3 linked regions of the Homo sapiens genome follow. The protein of the gene in region 2 purifies or fractionates together with the protein of the main gene of each other region. This does not show direct contact. Each region holds a gene or a part of one and is shown on either strand. Other genes may lie near its edges. The genes, in order: UBE4B, PCID2 and DCAF4.

Evidence for each region.
Region 1: the proteins of PCID2 (region 2) and UBE4B fractionate together in Homo sapiens (co-fractionation; one large-scale study listed by BioGRID). This does not show direct contact.
Region 3: the proteins of PCID2 (region 2) and DCAF4 purify together in Homo sapiens (co-immunoprecipitation; one large-scale study listed by IntAct). This does not show direct contact.

Annotation. Positions count from the first base shown.
Region 1 is NC_000001.11:10,039,365-10,043,013, reverse strand, and holds part of UBE4B (ubiquitin conjugation factor E4 B), read right to left. Parts: intron 1-3,649. UniProt on the Homo sapiens protein: Ubiquitin-protein ligase that probably functions as an E3 ligase in conjunction with specific E1 and E2 ligases. May also function as an E4 ligase mediating the assembly of polyubiquitin chains on substrates ubiquitinated by another E3 ubiquitin ligase.
Region 2 is NC_000013.11:113,202,022-113,205,670, forward strand, and holds part of PCID2 (PCI domain-containing protein 2), read right to left. Parts: intron 1-3,649.
Region 3 is NC_000014.9:72,953,916-72,957,564, forward strand, and holds part of DCAF4 (DDB1- and CUL4-associated factor 4), read left to right. Parts: intron 1-245; coding exon of another isoform or gene 246-248; coding exon 249-347; intron 348-470; coding exon 471-568; intron 569-1,607; coding exon 1,608-1,781; intron 1,782-2,470; coding exon 2,471-2,585; intron 2,586-3,649. UniProt on the Homo sapiens protein: May function as a substrate receptor for CUL4-DDB1 E3 ubiquitin-protein ligase complex.

The sequences.
Region 1 (3,649 bases), on a different chromosome or scaffold from region 2:
AAAAAAAAAGAATGAATGACTTTACCTCCTGCCACTGTGCCCCTTGCACAGAAGGCTCTAACCATGCTTGGCATCCTTGCTATTCCTGGAACAGCTCAAGAATGAGTTTACCTCAAGGCCTTCTGAACCTGCTGTTCCCTTTACCTGGGAACATTCTTCCCCGAGCAAGCTCCCAGCCATCCCTGAAATTCTTTTCAAGACCACCTCCTCAAAGTGCACACGTTACACATATCTGATTGTTCTCTGTACCTGTAGGCCACAGAAATACTCTGTAACAATACTCCATCCCTAAGTATTTCTCTTCACAGCACTTCTCATCAAATGACACCTTATGTGAACATGTTTGTTTGTTTGTTTCTTTGCTTTTGAGACACAGTCTCACTCTGTCGCCCAGGCTAGAGTGCAGTGGTGCAATCTCAGCTCACTGTAACCCCTGCCTCCCGGGTTCAAGCTATTCTCCTGCCTCAGCCTCCTGAGTTGCTAGGATTACAGGCGTGCACCACCACGCCCGGCTAATTTTTGTATTTTTAGTAGAGACAGGGTTTCACCATGTTGGTCAGGCTGGTCTCGAACTCCTGACCTCGTGATCCACCCGCCTCAGCATCCCAAAGTGCTGGGATTACAGGCGTGAGCCACCACGCCCGGCCATGCTTGTTTTTTATCCCTCTCCTCCCACTAGGACGAAGCTCCATACAGCAACGTTTGTCTGTTATCAGGGATGCAGCTAGTCAACTGTAAGCGCTGTTGAATGAACCGTTTACAGGAAGACATTTCCACTAGATACTACAAGTGCCGTGTGAGAAAATGCACTTTGCACAGAGAAGTCTTTCTGCCTTCTTTCCCTACAAGAGCTTGGGGCTACTTGATGAGCTCCACTCTCAGCAATAACAAACGGGAATGAAAGTCCACTGGAGGGCTGGGCCTGGCGGCGGGCGCCTGTAATCCCAGATACTCGAGGGGCTGACCCAGGAGAATCGCTTGAATTCAGGAGTCAGAGGTTGTAGTGAGCCAAGATAGCACCACTGCACTCCAGCATCATGCCTGTAATCCCACAACTTTGGGAGGCTGAGGTGGGTGGATCATTTGAGGTCAGGAGTTTGAGACCAGCCTGGCCAACATGGTGAAACCCCTCTACTAAAAATACAAAAATTAGCCGGGCAGTAGTGGCATGTGCCTGTAACCCCAGCTACTCGGGAGGCTGAGGCAGGAGAATCACTTGAACTCGGGAGGCGGAGGTTGCAGTGAGCAGAGATCGTGCCACTGCACTCCAGCATGGGGACACAGCGAGGCTCTGTCTTAAAAAACAAACAAACAAACAAAAAGTCCACTGGGGCTTCCACTTCCTATCTCAGAAGGGACCGTAAGAATGCTATAAATGTGGCCGGGCACAGTCGTTCACGCTTGTAATCCCAGCACTTTGGAAGGCCGAGGCGGGGGGATCGCCTGAGGTCAGAAGTTCGAGACCAGCCTGGCCAACTTGGAGAAACCCCATCTCTACTAAAAATACAAAAATTAGCTGGGCATGCTGGCGGGAGCCTGTAATCAAAGCTACTTGGGAGGCTTAGGCAGGAGAATTGCTTGAACCCAGGAGGCAGAGGTTGCAGTGAGCCGAGATCAGGCCATTGCACTCAAGCCTGAGTGACGAGAGCGAAACTCCATCAAAAAAAAAAAAAAAAAAGAATGCCAAAAAGGTTACAGTTGGCTGAGGTTAAGTCTTGTTTTAGAGGTAGTAAAGCGATAGAAAACTCTGGAGTCAGAACCTGGATTAGAGTCCAGGTTCTACCACTTACTAGTTGTGTGCCTTTCAATAAATTAATTTCTATTAGCCTCCATTTTCTTATCTGTAAAACAGGGGATAAGGATGCCAACCTTGTGAAGCAAGTTTATATCCTTATTATCATTCTCTGTCTCTTGTCTACAATGAACAAAAGGAGAGGAAAGGGCCTGGCAGGATACATCCCACTGTCCTCCCAGGCTTAAGAAAGAGTCCTGGTTATAAAGTGAATGGTAGCAACTATCTTCTGAGGAAAAAAGGGACCTCAGGTCCTCAGGCCTGTTACAAGGGAAGAAATGGTCAAAGAGGTGGGGATGTTAGGCTGGGTGCGGTGGCTCACGCCGGTAATCCCAGCACTTTGGGAGGCTGAGGCAGGCAGATCACCTAAGGTCAAGAGTTTGAGACCCGCCAAGCCAACATGGAGAAATCCCGTCTCTAATAAAAATACAAAAAAATTAGCCAGGCATGGTGGTACATGCTTGTAATCCCAGCTACTCGGGAGGCTGAGGCAGGAGAATCGCTTGAACCTGGGAGGCAGAGGTTGCAGCGAGCTGAGATCGCGCCATTGCACTCCAGCCTGGGCAACAAGAGCGAAACTCCATCTCAAAAAAAAAAAAAGAAAAAAGAAGAAAGAAATGGAGATGTTAGAGCACCAAGGCCAGAGTGGGGGTCTACATGTGGACTCATCTTTTTGGTGGTCCAAAATTAAACTTGCAATCTCAGCACTCTGGGAGGCTGAGGTGGGCAGATCACTTGAGCCCAGGAGTTTGAGACCAGCCTGGGCAACATGGCAAGACCCTGTCTCTACAAAATATACAAAAATTAGCCGGAGGCCTGGCGTGGTAGCTGACACCTGTAATCCCAGCACTTTGGGAGGCCATGGCAGGCGGATCACCAAGGTCTGGAGTTCAAGACCAGCCTGGCCAATATGGTGAAACACCGTCTCTACTAAAAATTAAAAAATTAGCTGGGCATGGCTGGCAGCTACTTGGAAGGCTGAGGCAGGAGAATCACTTGAACCCAGGGGGCAGAGGTTGCAGTGAGCTGAGGTTGCGCCACTGCACTCCAGCCTGGGCGACAGAGGGAGACCCTGTCTCAAAAGACGAAAAAAAAAAAAAGAAACATGTGCTTTCTCCAAAATCTGCTGCTTCTCTGGAATTCCTTATTCAACCCTTATCTATCCTTCTCCATAGCTAGAAACCAAGGTGTCATTTCTCCATCTCTCCTCCCCTCCCCTCCTTCACAGCTAACTGATCATCAAAACTGGGTTAATCACAGTCCTTGGTATTTTTGGTGTCTGTCTGCTCCCCTCCATTCCCACAGGCAATGCCTTAGTTCCCTTGGACTCCACTGCCTCGCTCCTATACAGCAACAACAGCCTCCTAATATGTCTTGCAGTCTGCAGCCACCTTCTCCCAAACTACCCTTTACTCCCTTGCCACCCATCTTTCTAATCTCTTAAAATCCCTAAAAGGCATTTTACAGAGAAAGTTCAAACTCAGCCACGTGCAGTGGCTCACGCCTGTAATCCCAGCACTTTGGCAGGCAGAGGCAGGTGGGCCACTTGAGGTCAGGAGTTTGAAACCAGCCTAGTCAACATGGTAAAACCCCATCTTTACTAAAAATACAAAAAAAAAAAAAAATCAGCAGGGCATGGTGGCATGCACCTGTAATCCCAGCTACTTGGGAGGCTGAGGCAGGAGAATCACTTGAACCCGGGAACCAGAGGCTGCAGTGAGCCGAGATCATGCCACTTCACTCCAGCCTGGGCAACAGAGAGAGATTCTGTCCCAAAAAACAACAACAAAAAGAAAGTTCAAACTCCTAAACGTTTCTGACAGCCCTCCAAGATCAGGTACCTGCCACACACCCGAG
Region 2 (3,649 bases):
ACTTACAACTAGGAAGGCTGATGACACCAAGTGTTGCCAGGAGCCTGAAGCAACTAGAAGGCTCACACATTGGTGATGGGGTAACTTGGGGTAAATTTTTAGAAGAAAATTGGTATTCTACTAAAGCAAGCAAACGCCTACTCTCTGACCCAGTAATCCTGTGCCCAGGTGTCCATACCCAGAAGAAAGGGAGGCACATGCCACCAGTTCAACACACTGGAGCCCAACTCCTACTACCCCATTGTTCAACTCAGGGTATGACAGGGAGGCTGACACCACCTTCCTGAAGACTAACTTCCATGATAAGGAATTTCCCCCCTGACTATTCCATACAACTACACATGCATTTACATTTTGAAACAGTAATCACACTGCCAGGAACTTACAACTAGAAACAGAAGGTATTTGTACTCGGCTACATGTAATCACAAAATATTGGACACAAACTAAATATCCATCCATAGAGACAGGCTGAATACTCTGTGAAACATCTATTTTAAGGCACACTATGCAACCATTTTTTGAAAATGAGGAAGATCTCTAGGAATTTACATGCAATAATTTCTAGGAAGATACAGTTAAGTGAAAAAAGCAAGTTGTAAAAGAGTATGTATAGAATGCTGCGTCTTGTATAAGAATGAAGGGAAACAAGAAAAATATGTGTGTTTATGTCTGTGTGTGTGTCACATGTACATCCCAAAAGGAAATACAGGATGGAGAAGGCAGAATCTAATGCAAATGATTATCTTTCTAGAGAGGGGGGTGGAATGAGGTGAGAGAGAGAAGGAAAGTTTCTGAGCACACCTTTAAATATAAGTTACTTACAACCCCATTCAAGAAATAAAATAGAAAGACAAACCTTAAAATTGAAACAAATAGAAAATACATACCTATATGAGTAACCTTTGAAAACAGTAGTTTGTGGAATTTGACTGTCCTTATTCTAAGGACAAAAAGACTGCCAAAAACAAAACAAAAAAAATCCTGAATTTCAACATCACTGAGTAGAATGTTGTTGGTGGCACTAGGGCCCTAATCCTGAACTGCTTGTGAGTGCAGTGGGTAGGGCGGTGTCGCCGGGACCACAGTCGTCAGTGAGAAAGAGCAGCACTGGCACAGAGCAGGAGAAGGGAGAGTCCCATGGGATTTGGGTTGGAGGTGTAAGCAGGAACTTAACTTTATCTTCAGCTGAAGCCATCTGAAGACTTGCAGGTTTTCTGCCTTCATAGGAAAACTACAGCCATTCAGAGGCAGCCCTCCTGCCCCAGTCCATGCAAGGTCACAAGCTGCTGCTCAACGTCACATCATAGCCTAGCTCCTGACATTTTCAAAGTCACAAATGGGTGCAAGACGATTTGGGCCCAAGTATTATGGAAACTAAGTTTCTCTTCATAGCCCTGGCCACAGGTTTAGGGATTTCATCTAAAAGGTAGACAGACAGATACTAAGATCCTCAGCTGTTTAGGGGAAAGGGTTAGGTTTCCTCTTTAAAATCACCATGCTACAGATCAGTATTTTGCAATTTACAACACTGCATTTGCCAATCATCATCAAGAAGCTGAAGATGGCCCCAAGAAGACAACACTGGTATCTGCCCATCCTCTGCAGGAGGCTTTCCGGTGTCCCCTGCCCACGCCCTGCAAGAACTCACTGGTGCCCAGCTCCAAAGGGGCCTCCTCTGGCTCCCTCGAGACCATCTGACCAGGTGCAATGGAACAGCGCCCTCAAGGATGAGGGTGGCAACTGCCTTGGCCAGGCAGGCACACTGCGTCTTCCCCGTTTGCCCTCCCATCAGTAGTTGGCCCTGGGATGGAAGGCAAAACAACCGATCCCACCCAGGTCTTGGTCTGCAAGTCCCCCAAGAAAACCAGTATTAGTCAGTTTAGCCCCAGAGAGGATATGCCTTCCAAAGTGGCCCTCCCTGTGCCATGTGGGCAGGCCTAGCCACAGGAGCCCCAACAGACTCCAACCTTGCTCAACTAAGGGGCTTCTGGCTAGAAAGCGGTTCTGGAGCCTGCTGGCCAAGCCGTGCTCTCTTTGGTTCCACACAAACAGGAGGTTCAAGCTAAGAGTTCCCCACAGCCACCCCTGCTTATGGTTCCAGGCACTCCAGGCCCCGCACTGTGCGATCTCTCGCACCACCCAGGGCCTTGCACTGGGCCCAGCCCCAGGAGCCTGAGAAGAGGAGTGTTCTGGTTAACATCAGTACTCTGGTGACAGGTCACACTTGAGCATGATGTTCTGATGTTGCCAAGGCCTCCAGAGCTCTCTGCAGAAGGAACCTATGAGTGACTGAAAGCTGAGAGTCCCAGACTTGGAGCAAGCACTGTGGAATGGAAGCATACTTCAATGACTAAACACACTGGGGACACAGTGGTCACGAAGGGATCAAACCCTGGAGTACAGACACCGGGGCCCTCCAAGGAGAGGCGGAGACCCCTGCTGGGGGCACTCACTGGTAGCCCTCCTTTGCCTGTGACCTCCCAGGGTGGTCCCTGCACATATGCAGGGTGATGTCGCCACATCCTGGGCTCTGCTTGGCCACACCTACCTGGGCTGCACCCAGTGTCCCACGGGTGACCTGACCAGAGGAGGGCTCAGTGCCACAGGGCCTTGAGCCCAAGGAGGGCCCCAGCTTGCTTGGCAGGCATGAATGTGTCCCAGGGGTGGTCCTATCAATGCCCCTGCCTCAATGACTAAACTGTGAGAAGACTGGGGATGTGAAGAGGAAAAGCAGGGATGGCAACGGACGGTACTTGCAAGCCCTAAAGGTGCGACTGGCGCCGCAGTGGACACAGGACCCCTAGCAGCCCAGCCACCTGGCCAACTCTTAACAGCTCATGCTGCAGAGCCTTCAGCCCTCAATGGGACCACACAACCAGACTCCAAGTGAGCACCTTCTGAGCGGCACCCCCAGGCCTGGCTCACCAGGGGATGCTCCCTGGCTCTGGCCCCAGGAAGACTTCCTTGTGGTTGCTGCATGCCCCTCACGCCCTCCAGTCTGGTCCACAGGAGGCACCATCTACTCTTGGAACTCATAACTCTTTTAAAAATTCAAAATCATTACAGGTCATGAACCTCTGAAGTCACTTCTGAATAGTCAAACTTTCCAATTCCATAAACTCTTGAAAGACAATATGAAGAACTACTGAAGATTAAGGAGTAAAGTATCTAACTCAAAGCTGATTCCCTAAATAAAGATGTTCACTACACCTGTAAAAAAGAGAGGTGTTCTTGGCAAAAGGAACATAATGAAGAAAATCTTTGGGACAAGAAAGATCATGGGGTGCCACAAGAAGATACCACTCCGCACCCAGCAGGATGGCCATAATAAAAAGAATGGAAAAAAACAAGCATTGACAAGAAAGTGAAGAAATTGCAACCCTCATACATTGCTGGTGAAAATGTAAAATGATGCAGCTAGCTGCTTTGGCATTTCTTTAACAAGTTAAACACAGAATTACCATATGACTCAGCAATTCCACTCTTAGGTATATGCCAAAAAGAATACAAAACCTGCGCAAGAATGTTCACAGCAGCAGCACAACAGCCAAAAAGAGGAAACAACTGAAGTGGTCCATCAACTGATGAATGGATAAACAAAATACTCCATACAATGGAATATCATTAGCCATAAAAAAGAACGACA
Region 3 (3,649 bases), on a different chromosome or scaffold from region 2:
CTGATATCAGTACTATTCGTACTGTAAACACGACTACTGGGAACGTTAACAAAGATGCATTTTCGGAATAACCACTTGTGAGCCAGGCATCCCAGCTGAGTCTCTCTTGCAACCACAAAACCCAGAATGGGGCCAAAGGTATAGACCCTCTGAGCAGCTATGGGCATATTTGGATGTTTTCCGAACCCAGTGGTCCCTGGCCTGCCTAGAAGGCAGCCACACTTTACATTCTCCTATCCCCTTAGCAGGAATAGACCGGCCTGGCATGCTCTGCAGTTTCCGGATCCCTGGTGCCTGGTCCTGTGCCTGGTCCCTGAATATCCAAGCAAATAACTGCTTCAGTACAGGTGAGCCTGGCTCCCCAGGTGCCCAGAGAAGAGGCCTTAACAGGCCTTAAAACCCCATGTAGTTGTCCCTCTCCCCAGACTACATGTGACATAATCTTACCAGCCCATCTCTGTCTCCGCCAGGCTTGTCTCGGCGGGTCCTGTTGACCAACGTGGTGACGGGACACCGGCAGTCCTTTGGGACCAACAGTGATGTCTTGGCCCAGCAGTTTGCTCTCATGGTTGGTTGGATTGGGACAGGCAGAATATAAAAGTTTGCCCCATGTAGAAATTTGGCCAGATTGAAATTGGACTCCTCTGTGTGCCATCTAGTACTCTTTGACAGGGGAGAAAGAGCATCAGAAAGGATCAGTGGGTTCCTTTGTAAGGGTGTCTGAGCCGAGTGAAAGTTGGTTGATCCAGAAAGGCTGGCCTGAGTTGCTCTACACAACCTCTCATGGAAAGGTATTGTGAGCAGTTCTTGGGTACTTGGATTTACCCAGTAGGACAAACCATTTTTAAAATGTATAAGCCAAACACCAATTCTTCACAGCTCCCAGGTTATATATTTTATATGTTTAAAAAATCAGGCCAGGTACAGTGGCTAATGAATGGCTGTAATCCCAACACTTTGGGAGGCCAAGATGGGTGGATCACAAGGTCAGGAGTTCAAAACCAGCCTAGCCAAGATGGTGAAACCCCTTCTCTACTAAAAATACGAAAGTTAGCCAGGCATAGTGCTGGGCGCCTGTAATCCCAGCTGCTCGAGAGACTGAGGAGAATTGCCTGAACCCGGGAGGCGGAGGTTGCAGTGAGCCAAGATCACACCACTGCACTCCAGCCTGGGCAACAGAGCAAGACTCTGTCTCAAAAAAAAAAAAAAATTGTGGTCATTACTATATTTCACAGACTTTTCTCTAGAAAATGCCGTCTTCCCTTAAAAGTGAATGAACCCACTAACCTGCTTTTGGTGGAGATGGAATGCTATCTCTGGGACTTCAGAGAGAAAGGCCAAACGGGACAGTGCAGGGGGGTGGGGGGCAGCTCCTAGGACCTCCGTGCTACCCATGAGGAGGACACATGGGGTCTGGTTCTTCTAGCCACTAACAAGGAATCATCCTCCCTTCCAACTCCATTGAGACCCAAACCCTGACCAGCACGTGTCTAATCACACCGTCTGACCCAGAGGCTGGAAGAGGGGTTGTATCAGGAGGACCTGCCCTGCCCAGCCTCAGAGGGATGTCATGATAGCCAGGCACTGAGCAGTCCCTCTTTCCACAGGCTCCTCTGCTGTTTAATGGCTGCCGCTCTGGGGAAATCTTTGCCATTGATCTGCGTTGTGGAAATCAAGGCAAGGGATGGAAGGCCACCCGCCTGTTTCATGATTCAGCAGTGACCTCTGTGCGGATCCTCCAAGATGAGCAATACCTGATGGCTTCAGACATGGCTGGAAAGGTAGGGGATCATGGACTTTCTCAGGCCACAGGGTCTCGTGGCCCAGTGCCCTGCCAGGTGAAAGGGTTCTGCTGAAGAGGTCCTCACACCAAGACCCCAGGCAGGGGAATTTCGCTGAAGACCAAGTGATTTGTAGGCCCTGCATGGGGACTGCTTCGTTGACCATATGAGCCTAATCTGACGTAAACAAAAGTGAAAAGGATTCTCTGGTTATGTCCTTTTTTTTTTTTTTTTTTTTTTTTTTGAGATGGAGTCTTGCTCTGTCGCCCGGGCTGGAGTGCAGTGGTACTATCTTGGCTTACTGCAACCTCTGTCTCTCAGGTTCAAGCGATTCTCCTGCCTCAGCCTCCTGAGTAGCTGGGATTACAGGTACCCGCCACTGCGCCCGGCTAATTTTTGTATTTTTAGTAGAGATGGGGTTTCACCATGTTGGTCAGGCTGGTCTCGAACTCCTGACCTCATGATCTGCCCACCTTGGCCTCCCATAGTGCTGGGATTACAGGCATGAGCCACCGTGCCCGGCCTGGTTACATGCTTTTGATGAACAACAAGGCTCAAGAATTCGAGATGGAGATCTTCATGACCTGCACAGGCCACTGGAGACCACCTTGCCTTCCTGGCTTTGCACTTGGGGACCACCATGGTACCCCCTGGCCCCTCCCTGATGGCCCCTGGTGCTTTTTCCACAGATCAAGCTGTGGGACCTGAGGACCACGAAGTGCGTAAGGCAGTACGAAGGCCACGTGAATGAGTACGCCTACCTGCCCCTGCATGTGCACGAGGAAGAAGGAATCCTGGTGGCAGGTACTTGAGGAAGGAAGGGGAAGTTCCACCCCATCAAATACTGTCTCTCAGGGGCGATCCCAGCAACTTCAGCAGCAGAGGGAAAAGTTACCCCAAAACAGAACTGAATCAAGGGGAGTGTGGACAGCTGGGTGGGGAGACTAGGAGGGAAGTAGAATTAGATTATATTAGTAATCAGGAGTGTAAATAAATGTCCACCAGGTGGACAGCCTCATCCCATGTCAGTGGGCAAACGTCACTTCAGAAACAGGCAGGTGGGGAGGTCCTGGGGAGCCTGGGTTTGGAGTTTGAGTGGATTTCATCAGGCCAGCATTATTCCACCACGCAACTATCTTATCCAAAAACTTGGGCTCCCTGTTGTCTCTACTCACATTTCCACCAGAGGATGCTGAGAAAAGAAGTTATGGTCATTGTAAAGATTCTTGGCCCCGGCCCGGCGCGGTGGCTCACGCCCGTAATCCCAACACTTTGGGAGGCCAAGGAGGGTGGATCACGAGGTCAGGAGATTGAGACCATCCTGGCCAACATGGTGAAACCCCATCTCTACTAAAATACAAAAATTAACTGGGCATGGTGGCACCTGCCTGTAATCTCTCAGCTACTCGGAAGTCAGAAGCAGGAGAATTGCTTGGACCAGGAAGTCGGAGGTTGCAGTGAGCCGATATCACGCCACTGCACTCCAGCCTGGCAACAGAGCGAGACTCCGTCTCAAAATAAATAAATAAATAAAAAAGATTTGTGGCCCCTTTACTACCATCCCTGTGGCTCCATGATCTGCAGATTAGGAGCAGCTATCTGGCCACTAAGCCCCCTGGAAGGGAGTTACCAGTTGATTACAGATGATGGTGGCTATAGCGTAATCAGACAGTGTGCAGGCTCAATGCTTTCACACTGAAATAGTAGCTGCTGACACTGCAGAATGTGTTCTCAGTCTTCAAGAATTGTCACCTCTACTGGTATTCCTATAGAAAGGGCTTATACCCCATGGAACATTTTTGTGGCTAGGAAGCATTACTTTGTTAGGACATTCATAGACTTATTTACTATTCTCATCAACACCAGGA